Linked DNA regions of Homo sapiens. The protein of the gene in region 1 interacts with the protein of each later gene in a pairwise test. Each region holds a gene or a part of one and is shown on either strand. Other genes may lie near its edges. The genes, in order: PLIN3, ACMSD, TBC1D13, TBPL1, SMAD2 and PBX3.

Evidence for each region.
Region 2: the proteins of PLIN3 (region 1) and ACMSD interact in a protein complementation assay, tested with the Homo sapiens proteins (one large-scale study listed by IntAct).
Region 3: the proteins of PLIN3 (region 1) and TBC1D13 interact in binary tests that used the Homo sapiens proteins (3 or more experiments, as listed by UniProt).
Region 4: the proteins of PLIN3 (region 1) and TBPL1 interact in a two-hybrid assay, tested with the Homo sapiens proteins (one large-scale study listed by IntAct).
Region 5: the proteins of PLIN3 (region 1) and SMAD2 interact in a two-hybrid assay, tested with the Homo sapiens proteins (one large-scale study listed by BioGRID and IntAct).
Region 6: the proteins of PLIN3 (region 1) and PBX3 interact in a two-hybrid assay, tested with the Homo sapiens proteins (one large-scale study listed by BioGRID).

Annotation. Positions count from the first base shown.
Region 1 is NC_000019.10:4,857,668-4,861,167, forward strand, and holds part of PLIN3 (perilipin-3), read right to left. Parts: intron 2,358-3,500; coding exon 2,159-2,357; intron 2,006-2,158; coding exon 1,923-2,005; intron 1-1,922. UniProt on the Homo sapiens protein: Structural component of lipid droplets, which is required for the formation and maintenance of lipid storage droplets. Required for the transport of mannose 6-phosphate receptors (MPR) from endosomes to the trans-Golgi network.
Region 2 is NC_000002.12:134,837,241-134,841,415, reverse strand, and holds the start of ACMSD (2-amino-3-carboxymuconate-6-semialdehyde decarboxylase), read right to left. Parts: upstream 2,801-4,175; 5' UTR 2,734-2,800; coding exon 2,677-2,733; intron 195-2,676; exon of another isoform or gene 1-194. UniProt on the Homo sapiens protein: Converts alpha-amino-beta-carboxymuconate-epsilon-semialdehyde (ACMS) to alpha-aminomuconate semialdehyde (AMS).
Region 3 is NC_000009.12:128,797,253-128,800,752, reverse strand, and holds part of TBC1D13 (TBC1 domain family member 13), read right to left. Parts: intron 1-3,500. UniProt on the Homo sapiens protein: Acts as a GTPase-activating protein for RAB35. Together with RAB35 may be involved in regulation of insulin-induced glucose transporter SLC2A4/GLUT4 translocation to the plasma membrane in adipocytes.
Region 4 is NC_000006.12:133,959,724-133,963,223, reverse strand, and holds part of TBPL1 (TATA box-binding protein-like 1), read right to left. Parts: intron 1-3,500. UniProt on the Homo sapiens protein: Part of a specialized transcription system that mediates the transcription of most ribosomal proteins through the 5'-TCT-3' motif which is a core promoter element at these genes. Seems to also mediate the transcription of NF1. Does not bind the TATA box.
Region 5 is NC_000018.10:47,812,160-47,815,659, reverse strand, and holds part of SMAD2 (mothers against decapentaplegic homolog 2), read left to right. Parts: 3' UTR 1-3,500. UniProt on the Homo sapiens protein: Receptor-regulated SMAD (R-SMAD) that is an intracellular signal transducer and transcriptional modulator activated by TGF-beta (transforming growth factor) and activin type 1 receptor kinases.
Region 6 is NC_000009.12:125,914,873-125,918,372, reverse strand, and holds part of PBX3 (pre-B-cell leukemia transcription factor 3), read right to left. Parts: intron 2,688-3,500; coding exon 2,446-2,687; intron 1-2,445. UniProt on the Homo sapiens protein: Transcriptional activator that binds the sequence 5'-ATCAATCAA-3'.

The DNA.
Region 1 (3,500 bases):
TTCTGTAGAAAAGAAAGTGGGACCCAGGCTGGGCCTGGTGGCTCATGTCTGTAATCCCAACACTTTGGGAGGCCAAGGCAGGTGGATCACCTGAGGTCGGGAGCTCGAGACCAGCCTGACCAACATGGTAAAACCCCATCTCTACTAAAAATACAAAAATTGGCCAGGTGTGGTGGCACATGTCTGTAATCCCAGCCACTCGGGAGGCTGAGGCGGGAGAATCGCTTGAACCTGGGAGGTGGAGGTTGCAGTGAGCTGAAACTGCACCAGTGCACTCCAGCCTGGGCAACAAGAGCGAAACTCCATCTTAAAAAAAAAAAGAGGGGGCCGGGCACAGTGGCTCATGCCTGTAATCCCAGCACTTTGGGAGGCCGAGGCGGGAGGATCACGAGGTCAAGAGATTGAGACCATCCTGGCCAACTTGGTGAAACCCCGTCTCTACTAAAAATACAAAAATTAGCTAGGCGTGGTGGCAGACGTCTGCAACCCCAGCTACTCAGCAGCCTGAGGCAGGAGAATCGCTGGAACCCGGAGGTGGAGGTTGCAGTGAGCCGAGATTGCACCACTGCACACCAGCCTGGCAACAGAGCAAGACCCCGTCTCAAAAAAAAAAAAAAAAAAAAAAAAGTGAGGCCCACAGAGGCAAAGTAACTTGTGTGAGGGCCACCCAGCTGCTGAGGGGCAGGACACAGTTTGGAACATGGTGTTTTTTTTGTTTTGTTGTTTTTGAGACAGAGTCTCGCTCTGTCGCCCAGGCTGGAGTGTAGTGGCGCGATCTCAGCTCACTGCAACCTCCGTCTCCTGGGTTCAAGTGATTCTCTTGCCTCAGCCTCCCGAGTAACTAGGACTACAGGCACACGCCACCACGCCAAGCTAATTTTTTTTTTTGTAGTTTTAGTAGAGATGGGGTTTCACTGTGTTTGCCAGGATGGTCTCGATCTCCTGACCTTGTGATCCGCCCACCTCAGCCTCCCAAAGTACTGGGATTACAGGCATGAGCCACCGCGCCTGGCCAGAATATGGTGTTTTTTTGGTTTTTTTTTTTTTTTTTGAGATGGAGTTTCACTCTTGCTGCCCAGGCTAGAGTGCAATGGCATGATCTCGGATCACTGCAACCTCCGCCTCCAGGGTTCAAGAAATTCTCCTGCCTCAGCCTCCCGAGTAGCTGGGATTACAGGCACCCGCTACCACACCCAGATAAATTTTGTATTTTTAGTAGAGACGGGGTTTCTCCATGTTGGTCAGGCTGGTCTCAAACTCCCAACCTCAGGTGATCCTCCCGCCTTGGCCTCCCAAAGTGCTGGGATTACAGGCATGAGCCACCGCGCCCGGCCAGGAACATGGTGTTTTGATGTTTTGACTTTCCTGCCGCCAACCTTTTCTGACTAATAAGTTATGGAGGTGGCAACATTCTGTGTAAAGGGCCACGTAACTAAGATTTTCAGTACTGTGGGTCACAGTCTCTGTCACAACTACTCAACCTTGCCATTGTAGGGTGAAAGCAGTCATAGACAATATGTAAATAAATGGGCATGGCTGTGTGCCAATAAAACTTTATTATAAAAACAAGTGGGCTGGGCACCGTGGCTCATTCCTATAATCCCAGCACTTTGAGAGGCTGAGGCAGCTGGATCACCTGAGGTCAGGAGTTCGAGACCAGCCCGGCCAACATGGTGAAACCCCATCTCTACTAAAAATACAAAAACTAGATGGGCATGGTTGCAGGCGCCTGTAATCTGGCTGGCTTTGCAATTATTCCTCCAGCTACCCTGTGGGGAGTGGATTCGGGGTGGGGATGGGAACCGACAGGAGAGGCAGCAGGGAGGATGCCATCAAGCTTGTCTAGTTAAGCTGGGACCAGCGCACTCCACACCCAGGTAGGTCCCTGTCTCGACAGAGCCCCTGAGGACGGACATCGTTACCTTCTCCGTGGGCTGCTGCAGGATGGGGAGGTTCTCCTCCAACTTGTCCAGCCCCCTGTGGGCGTATTCGCTGGCTGATGCAACTGCCAACAACAATTAAGACGCAAATGTGACTGCTGGAAGGTCACCTAGTAATGGTTCAGGGGGACAGGACCAAGAGCTGGGTAGACCCCCCTACTCCCCACCCAGGGAAATGACCAGGAGGGGAATTCAGTGCCCCCTGGGACTTCACCCACTCTGGGGCTCCAGCTTGGAGAGGATCGGCTGAGCCCCGCTGACAGCAGCCGCCGTGAGGGTCCTCACTCCCTTCTCTGCTGCGTCGCAGACAGTCTTGATGTGCGGGTAGCTCTCCTTGGTGGAGGCATAGGCTGCGGACACCATGTCGCAGGTGGAGCTGATCAGAGGCATGCTGGCCACACGGTCCACCACACTGGGCTACAGGAGAGAAGTGGCTCAGGCAAACTGGGTGGGGGAAGATGGGGAGCTCAGCCGGAAACTCAGGGTGCCCTGCAGTTTTGCTCTTACTCCTGGCCAGTGAAACGGCTCAGTTTACCCACACTTTGCATCCAGGCAGTTGCACAAGCCAGGAACCTTGGGGTTTCGCCACGTGCTTCCTTTATTTTTATTTTATTTTTGAAACGGAGTCTTGCACTGTTGCCCGGGCTGGAGTGCACTGATGCGATCTCAGCTCACTGCAACCTCCACCTCCCAGGTTCAAACGATTCTCCTGCCTCATCCTCCTGAGTAGCTGGGATTACGGGTGCCACCACGCCCAGCTAATTTTTTTGTATTTTTAGTAGAGATGGGGTTTCACCATGTTGGCCAGGCTGGTCTTGAACTCCTGACCTCGTGATTCGCCCACCTCAGCCTCCCAAAGTGCTGGGATTACAGGCGTGAGCCACCGCACTCAGCCCACGTGCTTCCTTGAACACAGGCTATTTACATGAGCCTGCACTTTATCCCAGCGATGTGCCAGGTGGTGATAAGGGACAACAGTTCCATTCTCATGGCAGTTAGGGTCTAAACCGGGGGCTGTAGACCACAGCCCATGGGTCACAGCCAGCGCACCACTTGATTTTTAAATTTTAATTATTTTTGGGGCCAGGAGCAGTGGCTCACGCCTGTAATCCGAGCACTTTGGGAGACCGAGGCGGGTGGGTCACTTTGGGTCAGGAGTTTGAGACTAGCCTGGCCAACATGGTGAAACTCCGTCTCTACTAAAAATACAAAAATTAGCCGGGCGTGGTGGCACATGCCTGTTACCCCAGCTACTTGGGAGGCTGAGGCAGGAGAATTGCTTGAACCCAGGAGGCAGAGGTTGCAGTGAGCCAAGATGTCACCACTGCACTCCAGGCTGGGCGACACAGCAAGGTTCCATCTCAAAAATATATACATAAAATAAAATCACCTGAGGATGAGAGATCTGGAATAGAAACTGGCCTCCTAGGACGTCCCTGAGAGAGCCTTCAGAGGTGAGGATGATTTGGCTCAGGGGTTGGGGAGGGCAGGTAGTTTCAGACAGAACCCTGCTCCCTCAGGCCCTCCAAGGGCCTTTGAGATTCCCCCCTCCCAACTGGG
Region 2 (4,175 bases), on another chromosome or scaffold:
CATCACTTCAGGCGTGTTGATTCTGCTTTTCTGTCTCTTCATTGTGCAAGAAGGTCAAGGTTATTCCAGCAGCAGTACTCTCTTGGGCCAGTTTTCTCAAGATGGGTGTGGTGGTGGGGAGGCTCTTGAGGGACCACGGTGGCCTCTCATAGCTCTGGGATTCTAGGTTCATTTCTGAGTCTCAAGCATCTCATCTGTCAAGTGAATAATATAAATCTTATCTGCATATTTCACAAGGTTTATGTAAATTATTTCTCCCTCTGTCTCTCCCTGGAAGTACGAAGTGTTATGACTATAATGATGGAAATGATGTAGATGGTGATGATGAAGTGTATCAGCTGTCTGCTTGCAGCATATGAGACTACTACATAAGAAGAAACCTGGTTTGGAATGAAAAACCAAACATCATATGTTCTCACTCATAAGTGGTAGCTAAGTTATGAGGATGCAAAGGCATAAGAATGACACGATGGACTTTGGGGACTCGGGGAAAGGGTGGGAAGCAGATGAGGGATAAAAGACTAAAATTGGGTGCAGTGTATACTGCTTGGGTGATGGGTGCACCAAAATCTCACAAATCACCACTAAAGAACTTACTCATGTAACCAAACACCACCTGTTCCCCAATAGCCTATGGAAATAAAAATAAATACATAAAAATAAAAAAAGAAGAAGAAACCTGGTTTATTGGGACAAAATTCCTCTCCCTCTTTAAAGCAATAGCTGGTGATAGAAAGGAGAGGGAGTTTGGAAGCTGGGAAGTCCAAGATCTGGTGAGAACCCGCTTCCTGGTTCTAAGATGGTGCCTTCTTGCTGTGCCCTCACGTGGCAGAAGGGGCGAACAAGCTTCCTTGGGCTTACTTTATAAGGGCACTAATCTCATACATGAGGGCTCTGCTCTCATTACCTAATCACCTCCAGAAGGCTGCATCTCCTAATACCATTGCCTTGTGGATGAGGGTTTCACCTGAATTTTGGGGGGGACATACACATTCAGACTGTAGCTCTCTCTAAGCCTCAAAATCCTGTCTGCACAAGGAGGTGTATGCCCTGGAGCTTGGAGCCCTGCTTGGAGGGTCGATCATGCTAGCTAGCTTTCTCAGTGGGATAGTACAGGGGGGCGTTGTCCTCTAGAGACCACCGTGGTGGTTTCCAAAGCATTTCATGTGGATATTCTTTCATACTCAAATAGAGAAAAAAGCTGTAACAGAGGAATTAGTGGTTTTTTTTTTTTTTTTTTTTTTTTTTGCTAGGTATAGTTTATGGCTATTTTAAAATACCAAATACTAAAATTTGGATTTTTCTAAAACTCTCAGATTAGGGAGTATAATCTATTGCTTCCATTACCTGTATCACAAGTTAGTCAATGTGTTCATTGCATCATTCATCAGGCAAATACTCATAAATGAGGGGTAGAAAGTGGTGGGCGCCATAAGATGTAAGAAACTGCATGCAGCTTCTAAACAAGGCAGATGCACTCCCACAAAGTAACTGGTGCATTCCCTTCATGAAATCATTAACATTGTGAAGTGGTTTACACTTCAGTAAACTATGATGAGGACAACAGCACTCAGAACAGCATGTTCCTGTGTAAACATGTAGAGTCCTTTTAGGAAGAGCAGGTTGAGAGGTTTATCTTTTATCGTTAGCTGTGCATAGGATAGGCTTTCAAAGATTTTGTTTTTCAATCCACAGTTTCTACCACCCCTCTTACCTAAGATACCAATGGACAAAGAAATACTTAAGATAAACATTCTTCAATGAGACAACTATGAGAAGAAAATAGTTTCATCTATTTGCACAATGAACCACATTTAATTCAAGTTTGGGTTAATTCATTTTCCCTCACTTGGGATAAAAAAGTTGAAACATTATCGGTGGTGTGAAAGTACTGGCAGAATGCTGAAGATTGGGTAAAACCTGATATTAAGCCTGAACAAACCTCTAGCCAATTTTACATTTCTTTCATGTTCCTCACCTTCCTCTTTTTATATTCATTCAAAAGTTCTTAATGACAAAAGGAAATTTCCATCTTTAGAGAAACACAAAGAATACTCTCTTAGGAGATGTCACTGTGCAAAAGCTTCATGTCATTTATTCTCGGGTTTTTTGATGTACCTACTTCCTAGTTCTTCAGGACAAAGATTTATAGAATAAAGAACATCAAACAGTAAAGGTTTCAGGCAGTGTCCTAAAATAGACTAAAAAAATTCACAAAGCTATCTCTTGGTGCTTCTAAAACTTATTTTAAACATTTTGGAAAGGAGATATATTTTAGAAGTCCTTGAAACCGATCACATTCCATTTTTAATGGTCTTCTACTTAAAATTGTAACTTTAAATTCTGTAGTTGGCATGTATCTTCCCAGCAGCTGAATATGTGATTTTTGAAAAGGTAAATCTGCCTTATTTAAATTGTCCAGATATTTTAAAGAATGGTTCATTTGAGGGAAAAAAGGGTTTCTGAGAAAGCACTTATTTCTTTAATCCAATGTTATTTCAAAATAAATATAAAAGTCATTTTTAAAAGCTAGAAAATCAGAACTACCAAATGATTTAACCCCCTCGCCCCCCACCAAAGCAGATAAACTAGACATCTAATTCCACAAAGAAGAGAAAGGCATTGAGAAACCCTGGAGAAGTTTCAGAAATAATTCAGCAAATTAATTACCATTACCTTTTTTAGATCTGGCCATTCTTTTGGTAGAATATGACTATGGATGTCAATTTTCATCTCCACAGGATCAGAGAAGCATGCAAGGAAAGAAGTTTTGATATCAAGAGACCTTTGTGAAAACTGTGGAGTTAATTGATTTACTTAGTCCCTTTACAGCAACCTTCAGGCAGCAGTCAGTAGGCCTGCCCAACCCAGTCTAGGTCCATTAGAACTGCTTTATTAAAGTTCAAAGTTCTGTTTATTTGTTAACCAAGCTTTGGTTAACCAAGCTTTATTTGTTAATCAAGCTTTGGGTCAACACAGTTTGGTAGTCAGGACTCTTGGCACAAAACTTAAAAAAACAAAAACAAAAACAAAAACAAAAAAACAACTGTACTCAACTGTATGAGGTCAAAAGCACAGCAGGATGCTTTGACTTACAGCAGGTCAAAAATTGACTGATTTTTCATTTTAAATATTTTAACTTAGTTGTACATAGTTAATAATTAAATAGTTTGTAGTTAAAAATAAAACCATGCAGAGGGCTTTTACAGAAAAAGGATAGATCCCTGACTCACCTTTTCTTACTTTTCCTTGCACTATTCAGAAGCAGCCAGTTTTTATGATTTTGCTTTTTGTTCAGTTAGTTACTCCCATATCTTTAAATAATATTTAACAGTTGTCTTGTTCATGAAAATTTAACGTGTTGAAAAGTTATGGGGAGGTTTCACATTTTAAATCACAGAAAGAGTCCACTCTTCATATATGTTTTTTCCTCCAGTGCCTTTGTCTTGGACTCATTCATTCATGCATTTTTTTCCTTTTTTTTTTGTTTTTTAATTTGAGATGCGGTCTCACTATATTGCCCAGGCTGGTATGGAATTCCTGGGCTCAAGCAATCCACCCACCTTTGCCTCCCAAAGTGCTGGGATTACAGGCGAGAGCCACTGCACCCAGCTTCATTCATGCATTTAACAAACATTTATGGAGAACTGCTATATGCTGACGATGTAAGGTTGACTGAGAGAAAGATGATACATATCCTAAAGTGTAGGGAAAAGAAGATAGTAGCCATTTCCATTTAGCATTATCAGAGCAGTCAGGGAGGGCTTCCAATATAGCAGAAAGTGGGGCTTATATGGTCATGCCTCTAAAGAGAGCCTGGAACAAAACAGCCCTTGATTGTTCTGTGTTTACCCTTTCCTCTTCCTGAACAGCTTAAAATGTTCAAGGGACCCCAGGTCCCCTGGCAAACCCTTAAACCTGCCTTGGTTGCTGCCTTCAGCTCAGACTCCACAACACATAAATTGAGTAGTCAAAAAGCTTCCTTCTGTAATTCAGCTAGATTCTGGATAAATTATAACAGACAGCTTGAAAGAAAATAAAGGAAATCCTTGAAATCCATTTTTTTAGAAGTTCAGTGAGCTAAAACTGAATGAGTAAGCCTTAAACTAACATGGAGGCACTTGCTAATACTGAGTAAGTAAGTGCAAGCATTTTTAGAGCACTCCCAATGGGCC
Region 3 (3,500 bases), on another chromosome or scaffold:
TTGCATTTAGATGGAAAGTATACAGATAGTTATCCAGTGTACTCTCCTTTCAACTTTCCTGAATGTTTGAAAATTTTCATAAGAAAAGGTTGGAGGCCAGGCACAGTGGCTCACACCTGTAATCCCAGCACTTTGGGAAACTGAGGTGGGTGGATCACTTTAGGTCAGGAGTTCGAGACCACCCTGGCCAAAAATCTCTACTAAAAATACAAAAATTAGCCAGGTGTGGTGGCACGCGCCGATGATCCCAGCTATTCAGGAGGCTAAGGCACGAGAATTGCTTGAATCCAGGAGGCAGAGGTTGCAGAGCGCCAAGATTGTGCCACTGCACTCCAGCCTGGAAGAAACAGCGAGACTGTCTCAAAAAAAAAAAAAAAAAAAAAAAGTTGGAAGATAAATAAAGAGATGATGATCCCTACTGAAGACTCCTACAATGAGCACGGGTCCCCAACACCAGCTGCCTGCCAGGATCCCTTGGGAACTTTGTAAATCAAGTGCTGGGCCCGGCCCTAGGCCTGCTCAGGCGGAAGCTCCAGAGGTGAGTGACCCATATGCGAGAACCCAGGCAGTGACAGTGGATGAAGCCATCCTGGAAGCATAGGGTCCTGGAGACATTAAACTCTCTCTCCCCTAACATACACATACATATGTATGCGCACACATGCAGGGATGTTCACACACACAGACACACATCAGCCACATTTACCAAGAGCTTTTTTATTTTTTATTTTTGAGACGGAGTCTCGCTCTGTCGCCCAGGCTGGAGTGCAGTGGCGCGATTTCGGCTCACTGCAAGCTCTGCCTCCCGGGTTCACGCCATTCTCCTGCCTCAGCCTCCCGAGTAGCTGGGACTACAGGCGCCTGCGACCACACCTGGCTAATTTTTTGTATTTTTAGTAGAGACGGGGTTTCACCATATTAGCCAGGATGGTCTCGATCTCCTGACCTCATGATCCGCCCGCCTCAGCCTCCCAAAGTGCTGGGATTACAAGCGTGAGCCACGCCTGGCCCTTAACAAGAGCTTTTTATGCGGCAGACAATGCTGTACAGGTATTCCTCCATTTAATCCACTGAACAATCTAAAATATTCTCTCAACATCATTTTCAAGATGAGGAAACTGAGGCTCAGAAATGTCGGGCCACTCCTTAAATGTCTAACATTAGGTGTTGGCATCAGGACTTGACCCTGAACTGGCTGACTCCCAAACCTAAGGTCCAGGACTTCAGGGCAGGCTGCCTCCTGAGGATGCCCAGGGCTTTCTGCTTTTGAAGAATCTGCACAGCCATGACCTCATTTCATCCTCTTGGCAGCTCAGGCAGGGCAGAAATGATTATGCCCAGTTTATGGTCTAGGAAACAAAGGCCAGGATATGTGTGACTTGCCCAGAGTCACACAGATGGTCTTTAACTCAAACTGCCCAATCACGAACCCAGAGGCTTAGGGATGAAGTTTCTGGTGGGTTCTCTGCTACCAGGACCAAAAGTTAAACCAGGTAACAGTGCTCTTTACACCTAGTTACTACAGTGAAAGGAATGACAGGAGCCAGTCCCCTCCCGGCCCTTCAGCCAGGAAATCAGCAGCCAAGAGTACTGCCCACAAAGCCAGCCTCCTGGTTATCTAGTCACGCAATCTGCACTGCACAGCAGTTCTGCTGGGCACCCAACTCTCGTAGGCACCTGCAACCCTGGATCGGCCATATCTGCCCCTGCCTGTCAGAGCTTCGATCAAAGTCATTTCCAGCTGGGTGTGGTGGCTCACGCCTGTTATCCTGGCACTCTGGGAGGCCCAGGTAGGAGGATCGCTTAAGCTCAGGAGTTCAAAACCAGTCTGGGTGTCATCGCAAGACTCTGTCTCTATTTAAAAAAATAAAACAAACAAACAAACAAAAAACAAAGTCATTCCCCAGGGGGAGAAAAACTTCTGCAGCAGTATCTGCCCTAGCTTGTTGGAGGCTACAGAAAAGGGTTTTTCCATTGATGGAAGACAGTGAAAAGTTTAGGGGAACAAGCCACTATTCCAGAGACCAAAGTAGGGGGTGTAAATTAAGGAATAAGATAATATACTTGTTTGACTACAAGGAGCTTCTCAGAGTGACAGGAATCTATTAAAAGTTGGGGGTCCTATCAGTTCCACCCAGAGTCTCTCAGATCTAACCCTGCTGCATCCCTGCCCCCACCACCTCTTGCCTAGACAACTGCAGTGGCCTTCCAGGTAGCCTCTCTACCGCCACTCCTGTATCTCCACAGTGCCTAAAGCATTTCCGACACAAGCAGATGTGAATTATGTCACTGCCCTGCTTACACTGCTGTAAAGGATTCTCCCCACCCCTCATGACAAAGGCCCCAAGTGGCCTTACCAGCACCAACCTCTTCACTCGCTCTCTGCTTCTAGCCACCCCGTGGCCTCCCTGACCTGGAACACACCACGCTCTCTCCCGCTGAGGACTTCGGCATATGCCCTCCTCTCCACCTGGAATGTTCTCTTCTTTTCTTTTTTTTTTTGACAGGGTCTCGTTTTGTCACCCAGGCTGGAATGCAGTGGTATAATCTAGACTCACTGCAACCTCCACCTCCCGGGTTCGAGCAATTCTACTGCCTAAGCCTCCCGGGTAGCTGGGATTACAGGCACCTGCCACCATGCCCAGCTAATTTTTGTATTTTTAGTAGAGACAAGGTTTCACCATGTTGGCCAGGCTAGTCTTGAACTCCTGACCTCAGGTGATCCACCCACCTCGGCCACCCAAAGTGCTGGGATTACAGGCATGAGCCACCACACCTGGCCAGGGCCAAATTTTTGTATTTTCAGTACAGATGGGGTTAAATCCCCGGGTTAGTCAGGCTGGTCTTGAACTGCTGGCCTTAAGTGATCTGCCTGTCTTGGCCTGCCAAAGTGCTGGGATTACAGGCATGGGCCATTGTGCCTGGCCGTTTTCTTAATTTTTATTTTTTTGAGACAGGGTCTGGCTCTGTCACCCACGCTGGAGGGCAGTAGTGTGATGTAGGCTCACTGCAACCTCTGCCTCCCAGGCTCAAACCATCCTCCTACCTCAGCCTCCTGAGTAGCTGGGACTACAGGCACATGCCATCATGCCCAGCTAATTTTTGTATTTTTTGTAAAGACAGGGTTTCACCATGTAGCCCAGGCTGGTCTTGAACTCCTGGGCTCAAGCAATCCTCCTGCCTCAGCCTCCCAAAGCGCTGGGATTACAGGCGTGAACCACTGTGCCCAGCCCTATCACATTTTCTCACATTTGTAATGACCTTCTCAGAGCCATCCCCACTATAAGATTAGAAGCCTGGCTCATTCACTCACTGTGATGCAGGGCCCTTCCCAGCAGCCATTACACCCAGATGGGACACAGTGAACCTCTGTTACCCAACTTTTAGAAAGCACCCCAGGATCTGGCAGCATCAGGATTGCGCTGAGTAACTGTCAAGCAGATGGTCATGGCCCGACACCTTGTGGCCAGGAGTTTAAGAGAAAAAGGAAAGAAAATACT
Region 4 (3,500 bases), on another chromosome or scaffold:
AAAAGGGCTCTATTCTTCTATCAGTACTGTTTTTCAGAGAACATCAAGACTTCTACATTCTGTTTACCATCCCTTGTTTCCCAAACTCCACTTCATGCTTTTAAACCAGCATAATCTGTCTTCTGCCTCTACACAGTACAAAATGTTACAAATGAATGGCTCATTGCTGAATTCAATGGCACACTTTAAACTCCCTCCTACTCTAGAGCATAAAGCACTGGGAACTTCTGATTCTCCAACTGCTCCCTTGCCATGTCCTATCCCTGGATTCTGAAGAAGCTTTCTTGAATTCTCTCCCCATCTCATATACTTCTCTGTCTGTTCCTTAAATCAGAAGTTCTTAACTGAAATCCATGCCAGACCCTGAAAAGCTCAACAATAGGTTCCACAGGTTAGGAACCCCCTGAAATTGTATACACACTAATCTGTACCTGAGAAGGCCATTGTTTTTTTCATATTACCAATAGGTTTAAGATCCCTAAAGGTTATAAACCACTGCCTGAAATCCTTTTCCTCTTTAAACTTTTCAGGCCTCAGTTGCTATCTATGAGCTTATGGCTGGCTCCTACATCTATCCTGACCTATCAGATATCTGAATCCATATTCCCAATCATCTATTAGGCATATCTATTAAAATCGACACATACAAACAAAACTCATTAAGCACCTCAAGAAATCTTGCTCTATCTCCTTGTAATTCTGTGAATGGAGTGAGTCACAATTAACACTCGCTCACTTCAACCAGAAATTTCAGAATCATCCTTCATCTCTCATTCTTCTCCTCTGCTCAGTTAACTTTTAATCTAGCTTCTTTTCTGCATCCAAAGCAACGTTTTATTTTAGGCCAGCTCACATGTCATTATGGCTACAGGCTTCTAATAGAACTCTCTGCTTGCATTCTCCATGCTCTAATCCATCTACCAAATAGCTACCAGGATTATCTTCCTAATTGTCTCCCTATCTGAAGAAGCATCTCTTGGCTCTCTTAGAATGAAAAACAGAATCTCATCTGCTTGCCTTGGAATGCAGTGGACTTCCCACCCCCGATCTTCCTTATATAACCTAATCTTCCACTTCCAACACACCTTAACATTCTCAGCTTTACACCATTCCTCTTCCAATAACAGACTGTTTCGCGGTTTTATAGCTGCCTAAATCGTCCTTTCCCCACTCCTTCAACTAGGAAACTTTTACGCATAATTGCATATTTAGTATGCAACTCATGTGAACCAAGCTCTGCGGGTAGACACTGGGAATACAGCTCAGAACAAAATGGTCAGGCAAGCAACTCTCATGGCAGTTGTATTTCAGTGGAAGAAAAAGACAACAAATAGGCTGACAAAATAATCAAGAGAATGTGATCTATGTTATAAAGGAAACGAGATAATGAAAGAGAAACTTCAGGAGCAATGATCCAGGGAAGGTCTTTCAACTTTCTTAAGAGGTAAGAAATAATTCTTGGCCAAGTGCGGTGGGTCACACCTGTAATCCCAGCACTTTGGGAGGCCAAGGCGCATGGATCACGAGGTCAGGGATTCAAGACCAGCCCGATTAACATGGTGAAACCCCATCTCTACTAAATACAAAAACTAGTCGGGCATGGTGATGTGCACCTGTAATCCCAGCTACCCAGGAGGCTGAGGCAGAAGAATGCTTGAACTCGGGAGGCGGAGGTTGCAATGAGCCGAGATTGCACCACTGCACTCTAGCATGGGTGACAGAGCACGACTCCGTCTCAAAAAAAAAAAAAAAAAAAAAGAAAGAAAGAATCTTAAAAAGAGATCTTAAAGGATAAGAAGTAGCCAGCCATATGAAACACTGGGAGAAGAGCAACCCGGCAGAGGGCACAGCAAATGAATGGTACTGTTGGTGTTATAAGTGTCTACTGAACTGCAGACACCAAGCTCCTTGAAGATAACTGTTTAATTTAAATGTGTGTCTTTAGAACTTGGCTGAATTGCTGGCATTTGGTCCTAAACTCAATAAAAAGTTGATGAATTAAATGAATACCTTAAGAACAACTGAGAAAATGGTTTGTGGGGTTGGGGGCAGGTAAGTGTAAACAGTAGATATCTTTCACGATAGCAATAAGAATCTGAGTAGCCTCAACTGACTCAAGTTCTCCAACAGTATCCAACTCTTCCCTTACTTCACTTTCTGGTATATTATACTACTTAGTGCTCCTACACCTAACAAGTTACTAATGGTTTTAGGTCAGACCCCCAAATCCTGAAGAGCAACTGTGTTCCAGGAGCTTTTACAAATACAAAAATATATTTCTGATGTAAGAAAAGAATTATTTTAATTAAAACACACCTACTGACCTTCAGCATTTTTTATATTCCCTTTTCTCATCCTCTGAAAGTTACTGTCTCCTTTTCTTCATCCCCAAGGGTTCTAACTCACCCATGTTCTATAGCCTACAGCTAATTCCACTATAGCCGGTCATCAGAGAATGGCCACCCTGTCAGTCACTTCCAAGATATCAACCATTCAGTTAAAGTTAAACAGGGTGTGATGATGAAGCCATTTTTCCTCTATACCCAAAGAGACAGCAAAAATATATAACCAAGACAAACAAATTCAGAATATTGTTTCAGGCATTTGAAACTCTTCTAATTTTAATAGGCCAAAACCAAAAGCCTAGAAAGAGTAAATCAAGAGGCATGCATTCTAAATGTACAGACAAATTAAATAATTATCCAAGTTGTTTTGTACTGCGCACTGAAGTGGAAGTTTCAAGATTACTGGCCACAGCCAAGGAGTAGTGTTGAATTTCTTAAAATTAAAAAAAAAAAAAAAAAAGGCTGGTCAGCCAAAGGCTTTCTCTGCTATACTGAGACCTACAGATTTCCATTAGCAATATAGCTTTTTAATCTGTTGAGCCACTCAGCATCCCTTACTGAGGGCCTCCCCCCTCAGTACAAAAGAAGAGTAAAGAACAGAGTACCTTTAAGATTAGCACACTAATTTCTGTTGAGGAAGGTCTAATGAATTAGTCATTGTGCCTTCAATATGGTTGTCTGTGATCCCTGCAACCACCCTAATCTGTAACGAGCAAAGATCCTGGAAGGAGGTCAACCCACAAGCAATTAAGGTATGCTCATTACAACTTTCCTAGGTTGTACATGTACACAAGTCACTGGAAATGCCCAAGGAACACACTGCAGCCATAAGTAGGTGAGAGGAAAAACGCTTGCGGCTCACCAGAAGCATCTGACAAATTAAAAAGGATGGGGTGGTTCTTGTTCCACAAAAGCTTCAAGTTCATTAACTGAGTTTCAAACAGTAACAGGCCCTATAAATGTTGTCCACAGTCATAAATCAAATCTCCATCTTCATATTTGCACTTTTGGGTTACACATTGACTTTATTATGTTCATATCTGAAAGACAGCAACATCTGTCCCTGAAAAAGAGTGTGATAGAAAGAACACTAGGTGGCCAGGTGCAATGGCTCACGCCTGTAATTCCAACACTTTGGGAGGCTGAGGCAGAGGG
Region 5 (3,500 bases), on another chromosome or scaffold:
GCAGTTGCCCTTGCGTGCTGTACTCAGACTTGGAGGAAGTGATGTCTTATTCAAGGCCAGTTTTTGTACTAGTGGTTAAATAAATGGTTTCCAAATTGGAGTCAGAAGGAGAGCTTCTAAAATGTAGGTTCCCTGGCCTCAATTGTGAGATTCTGCTTTAGCAGGTCTGGAATTGGAGCACTGGGATCTGCATTTTCAGAAAACCCAAAATGATTATCAGCCAGGACTTAAACCTCTGCTTTAGACCACATTCCCTGTGGGCTTTCAGATTTTCTATCAATGTTCTTCCCTCTTCCCAGCTCCCACACATTAAAACTCAGATCATGCAGAAAAGAAGTTACAGTTCCTTCATTTCACATCAATTTCTCATGCATCCCATCTGGTTTTGGGAAGGTGTGGGACGAGGTGGATGGCCTTAAACTTGCCAATCAAAGATAACGTTCTCTTTCGATTCAAATAGCCTATCTCAGGCTTAAAACCATCTCTTTGGATAAATGCTCAGCTTTTCAAAGGTTCTTCCTAGCTTCTTCCTCATGATGGCATCTAGTGGGTGAGAACAGTCATCTCCAGGTGACACAGGAAAGAGTTTCTCTAATGTATGTGCTGAGGTCCTTGACGGTCCTGCTGCTGGTGCTCATCCTGCCATCTTTGCTGGATGTCACTGAGTCTACTGGGTAATGTAAGTGGGTCCCTGGCTTTTGTTCACTGCTGTCATGCCCTGCTCCTGACCACAACTCTGTCATTGCCTTTGGTCTCAAGGTCTCTACCTTAATAGCTTCCATGTCCCAACTATGGGACTGTTAATCTGCTGGGCTTTGGAGTGGGTGGGAAGGGATGATGTTGGAACTTTGGGATGTACTGAACATCTTGCTCAAGCTTTGGGAAGCCAACATTTTCTCAGACTGACTAGACACCTCCTTCCACCAATGCTGAGCTAGTGCTCCTGTGCCATACTGGGTAAGCCTCTAAGTCATGAGTAGGACTTTTTTGAGTGGCTTGCAGTCTTCCCCAGGCTATGCCAGGAAAGTAGTTGACTAACCCTGCTGCTCCAAGACTCGCATACCCATCCTGAAGTTTCCGTTTATTTCCCAACAGGGCAATTGCAATCTCAATCAATCTCTCCCTGCCCTGGGAGTCATTCCACTCCTGCCTAATGAAGAGACTCTTCTCACATCGTATTCTCAGTTTCTCTTATCCATGGTTAGGAGTAAAACTCATGTTCAGTTGTCCAAGCTTTGCTTTTAGTATGTGAATGGAGCTCTTAGCATGTAGAACTCCCTTCTCATTCTCAGTAAAGTCTGACTTTGAAGACTACTTATCATCTTCCTAGAGATGCCAAAGAATAATCAAGATAATAAAGGCAGGCTCTGAGATTCACAGCTGAGTAGCAACTGTGCTGTTACTCTAGTACACACCCTCTCCTTTCCTGTGACTGTCAGGCTTCAGGGCTTACCTTTATTGGAAAGACAGCAGGGGGGCATATATGAAGAAAATGGAATCTTTAATATTGTCAAAGTCTTGACCCAATAGAGACATTCTTGCCCCAGACTCTCTTGCTTCAGTGCCTTTGCCTGTTCTGGTCCTAAGTACCTTGAATATCCTTCTCTTGATGCCCTGATATAAAACTCTTTATTCCTCAAAGCCAAGTTCAGGTTATCACCTCCACCACAGACTTTTCTTTCCCTCCCCAAACTTCATTGCCTCTTCTCATCACTCCCTTTGTAATTTGTTTATACTGGTAAGAGAGCATTCATCATAATTAGGCCTATCTATGCCTACCTTTCTTGTTAAATTATGAGCTTTGTTCTGCCTTGGATATCTCTCTGGCTTGGATATCTCTCTGGCCTTTGCTCTGCACTTCCAAATGTATCCATTATTCAAGACCCAGGTTTCCAGCCTGATCAACATAGCAAGATCCCATCTCTCCAAAAAAAAAAAAAAAAAAAAATTGTGGGGCCGGGTACAGTGGCTCATGCCTGTAATCCCAGCACTTTGGGAGGCCGAGGCAGGTGGATCATGAGGTCACGAGTTTGAGACCAGTCTGGCCAACATAGTGAAACCCCATCTGTACTAAAAATGCAGAAAATTAGCCGGGTGTGGTGGTGTGTGCCTGTAATCCCAGCTACTCGGGAGGCTGAGGCAGGAGAATCGCATGAACCCGGGAGGCAGAGGTTGCAGTGAGCCGAGATTGCGCCACTGCACTCCAGCCTGGGTGACATTGCAAGACTCCATCTCAAAAAAAAAAAAAAAAAAAATTAGCTGGGCATGGTGGCAGGCACCTGTAGTCCCAGCTACTTGAGAGGCTGAGGTGGGAGGATTGCTTGAGCCCAGGAAGTCGAGGCTTCATGAGCCATGTTTGTGCTACTGCACTCTAGCCTGGATGACAAAGTGAGATCCTTTTCTAAAAATAAGGACCCAGTTTATTTTATTTAGTTATTTAGTTATTTTTGAGACCAAGTTTCATCACTCAGGCTGGAGTGCAATGGCACAGTCTTGACTCACTGCAACCTCTGCCTCCTGGATTCAAGCAATTCTTCTGCCTCAGCCTCTTGAGTAGCTGGGATTGCAGGTGCCCGCCACCACACCTGGCTAATTTTTGTATTTTTGGTAGAGACAGGGTTTCACTATGTTGGCCAGGCTGGTCTCAAACTCCTGACCTCAGGTGATCCACCTGCCTTGGTCTCCCAAACTGCTGGGATTACAGGTGTGAGTCACCCTGCCTGGCCAGAACCCAGTTTAAATTCCATCCTCTCTGCAGAGTCTTCCTTAACCACCCCTATTGAAAGTTACCCCTGCTTCCTACAAGAAGTGGTACTTGGATGTTCATGAGATACCTGTGCAAGGCTCCTGTGGGGGTCCTGGGGAGACAGTGACATGGACACTCATGAAAGGAACCTTGGAATAGCGAGTGTGTGTGCTATAAAATGTGCTTTAGATTTGATTACCACCACTTAAGTTATGAGCTCTGATATGGTTTGGGTCTCCATCCCCACCCAAATCTCATCTTGAATTGTAATCCCTACATGTTGAGGGAAGGAAGTAATTGTATTATGGGGGTGGTTCTCCCATGCTGTTCTCATGATAGTGAATTCTCACAGGATCTGATGGTTTTATAAATGGTAGTTTTTCCTGTACTTTCACACACTCACACTCTCTTCTGCCACCTTGTGAAGAAGGTGCCTGCTTCCCCTTCTGCCATAATTGTAAGTTTCCTGAGGCCTCCCCAGCTGTATTAGTCTGATCTCACGCGGCTAATAAAGAGATACCGGAGACTGGGTAATTTATAAAAGAGGTTTAATTGACTCACAGTTTTACATGGCTGGGGAGGCCTCACAATTATGGCAGAAGGTGAAGGGGGAGCAAGACACATCTTACATGGCATCAGGCGAGAGAGCTTGTGTAGGGGAACTCCCCTTTATAAAACCATCAGATCTCGTGAGACTTATTCACTATTACAAGAGCAGCACGGGAAAGACCCACCCCCATGATTCAGTTACCTC
Region 6 (3,500 bases), on another chromosome or scaffold:
AAACCCTGGTGATTTGATGCTGGTATAAGCTGGGGCTAAAGTTACATAAAATCTCATGGAAAATTTTGTAGGATATTTCTAAAACAGTGAGACTCAGGACCTTGTCATTGACTGACACCAGCTTCACACAACTTCCACCAGAGTGTATGGAGAAAGTAAGGAGGCAGGTGTAAAGACACATGGCAAGAGGTAGTAAGGAATCACCTTAATTCCTCAGCCAAAAAACTCAGGCCATTTGGCCTCTAATATTATATCTCTTTCCATGCAAGGTGACTGGTAGTGTTTATCTAGTAAGTAGTTATAGTTATTTTAGCATAAAGTTATACAATTAGGATTATACTACAAATAAGAGTCATTTTCTACTGTTTATGCTCAGGGGCAACCTTTTCAACCATGACTTATTTTGTTTACTCTCAATTATTCATATGTCAAATCAGAAAGTGGGATTTTTACATACATACACACGATAATTTTTCCAAAATTCTTATTTGTACATTTTCCACAAGAAGTTATTCTTACAAATGAGACTAGACATACAATTTTAGATCTCAGAAAATCCTATTCCAAAAATAGAAAACACCTTATAATATTAATTTACACTACTTTTTAACTTAAAGCTATACAAATTTTTCTACTCTTCCTCAAAACACACTCACCTCTGGGATAGGATTCAGCATTTGCTTAATACCATTGTATCCAGAATATTAGAAAAGGCAATGTGAAAAAACAACGATATATATAATTGAAACTATACAGGGAATGTAGAGGGGAAAAAATCAGTATTAAAACTGATCAGGGGTTGCCAGGGATCAGTGGGAAGGAAAGAATAAAAGAAGAGAGGGATGAATAGCACAGAGGATCTTTAGGGCAGTGAAAATACTCTGCATGACCCTATAATGATGGGTACATGCCATCATAAATTTATCCAAATCCATAGAGTGCACAATACCAAGAGTGAACCCTAATGTAAACTATGGATTTTGGGTGATAATGATGTGTCAATGTAGGTTAATCAATTTTAACAAATGAACCCCTCTGGTGGGGGATGCTGATAATGGGAGAGACTATGCATGTGTGGGGACAGGAGGTATATGTGATATCTCTCTTCTTTCCTCTCAAATTGGTCTGTGAACTTAAAACTCCTCTTTAAAAGAGTCTTTAAAATACACACAAACACACACAAAACTCACCAGGACTCCCATTTCACACTAAAGTGTGTGGACTTTAAAAAGTACTTGCCTACATAGTGAAATACTCATGGGTGAAATTATAGGATGTCTAAGACTTGCTTTAAAATACTCTTACCAAATTGGGGCTGGGTACACAAAATAAGAGTGGCAAAATGTTGATAACTGTTTATCTGGGTAAAAAGTATCTAGCTGATTCTGATTCCTTATTTGGGGTTGAACTCTATGAAATTACCATATTCAACTGTTTTTGGCCTCAAAACTTAGCAATTTCATAGGGTTCAATCTAATACTATTCTCATTATTTTTGTGTACATGTATTATAAAATGTTTCATAATACGTTTTTAAAATTACCTTCCAAATGACAAATCTTATCAAATGAGAATTCCTCAAACTTGGCAGCTTTTCAGCATTAAACTAACAACTAAAATATATGTAAAAAGACCCACCAATATTTTACTTTATTACATTAAATCTAAGACTCTCTTGTTTTTCTCCACATTTTAACATCTCTGAAATGTGAAAGCATTTTATAATCAGTAATATTTTATAGTTAAACTAGCAGTATTAATTTTTTCTTGGTGTTACATAAAGATGCAACTTAAAGTTATCTGAGATTCAGTATGGTTAATATAATTGCTGAGAACCAGATTTTTAACCCATATTCTCTTTCTAATAAGGAATTTAGCACATAATGCCTTGCCTAGCATTCCCTGTCCTGGGGTACCCATAATTATCTTGGGAGGTCTCATACTCAGAGAAACAGGCCGGAACCTGCTTACTTGGTGAAGTTCCCTATAGTCTGGCACAATCCATAAGAATTAATTCCCAGGAGGATTCTGGAGCTCACAGCATAGGAGGGAAAAGCTCACTGTGCAATGCTTCCCTTCAAAAGTGATTAAAGCTTATGAACAAGGCTAGTGCATAAATGTTAATTATACAGAGCTTTGAAGAGCACCAAGTGGTGAGGTGAGAGGGAAGAATGACTGCAGGTGTGGTAATAAGGGCACGTGAATGTGCGGAATGAATAAAACTAAAACAAGTAGATGGGATAAAATAGGTAGCGCTCCTCCTCCAAAATCTCAAAGGGTCTTCCTTTCATGAATCCAACAATTCACTTGGATTTTTGCACTGACCTTATTTATTTTGTAATTTGTGTTAACACCTACCCCTCACAGCCCTCAGAATTGGTTAGCATGGTCTAATAGAAGAGCAACAGAGGGTTTGTGTAGGACTATGAGAGTGGCGGCTGCTGACCTGTTCATATTTCTCCAGTTCTGTGTGATAGATTTGTCTGATCTGGGTCAATTTGGCTCTGTAATCTGAGTGTTCAATAGAGTTATCTGAAGAACCTCCAGAGGCTGCCGCGGCTGCAGCTGCTGCCGCCGATCCCCCACCTTTCTCAGGACCTGAAACCCCTTCTGCCAAAAGCATATTGTCCAGTCTCATTAGCTGGGGATCGGGAGGGTCCTCCTCCTGGGCTCCTCTGATGCTGAGACCTTCAAGGAAAGAGAGAGAGAGACAGAGAGAGAAGAAGCGAGAAACAGAGGACAAATAGTGTGAGTATTTTGTTTATTCGAGAAAATGATCAAACAACATCAGTGTACTACAATTCATGCTGAGAACTTCATTGTTCACATTTGATCGGTAAGTTTGAATAAGTATGAAAATTATTTTTAAGATAGTGTTTACATGCACCCTAGAATTTTAAATACCCCCCCACCGCCTCAATTTACCACAGACTAGATCCTTAGAAAAAGGTAACCCTGGCTTCCTGGAATATTTTAATCATTCAAGCTTCCCAGATTTAGATAATTTAAGCATAAAATGGGAAGAGGGTAAAAAATTGAATGTTTTAAGAAAGAAAGAAAATAATTACAGGGATATAAAACAACTCATCCAAAGGTGGTTATTCTGTCTCTCTCTGTACAGTTGGAGAAACAGAATTAAAATTCCCATAAAATAGTTAATTCACAAGCTGTAATCAAAAATTGAAAAATAAACAACATTAGATGAGCTTTTCCATCGTGTGATTTCAGAAGAGGAATACACACATTATGAGGTAACTGGCTATACTTAAATATATATATATTATTAAATGAATATTGTTAAGCAATTGCCAGCAAACTATAAAACGAGGATACTAAATACAGTATTAAAAATGTGCCATTGACATGGCAATACAGTGCTGGGCACAGTAGTCTCAATCTAATTTTGCTTTTAAATCAAGAACTTCCTAAGTGATGCCCAGTCAGCAACCTCTTCTGAGTACTATAGATCATAGCTGACAATTCATAGGTTTAATCAGGTCA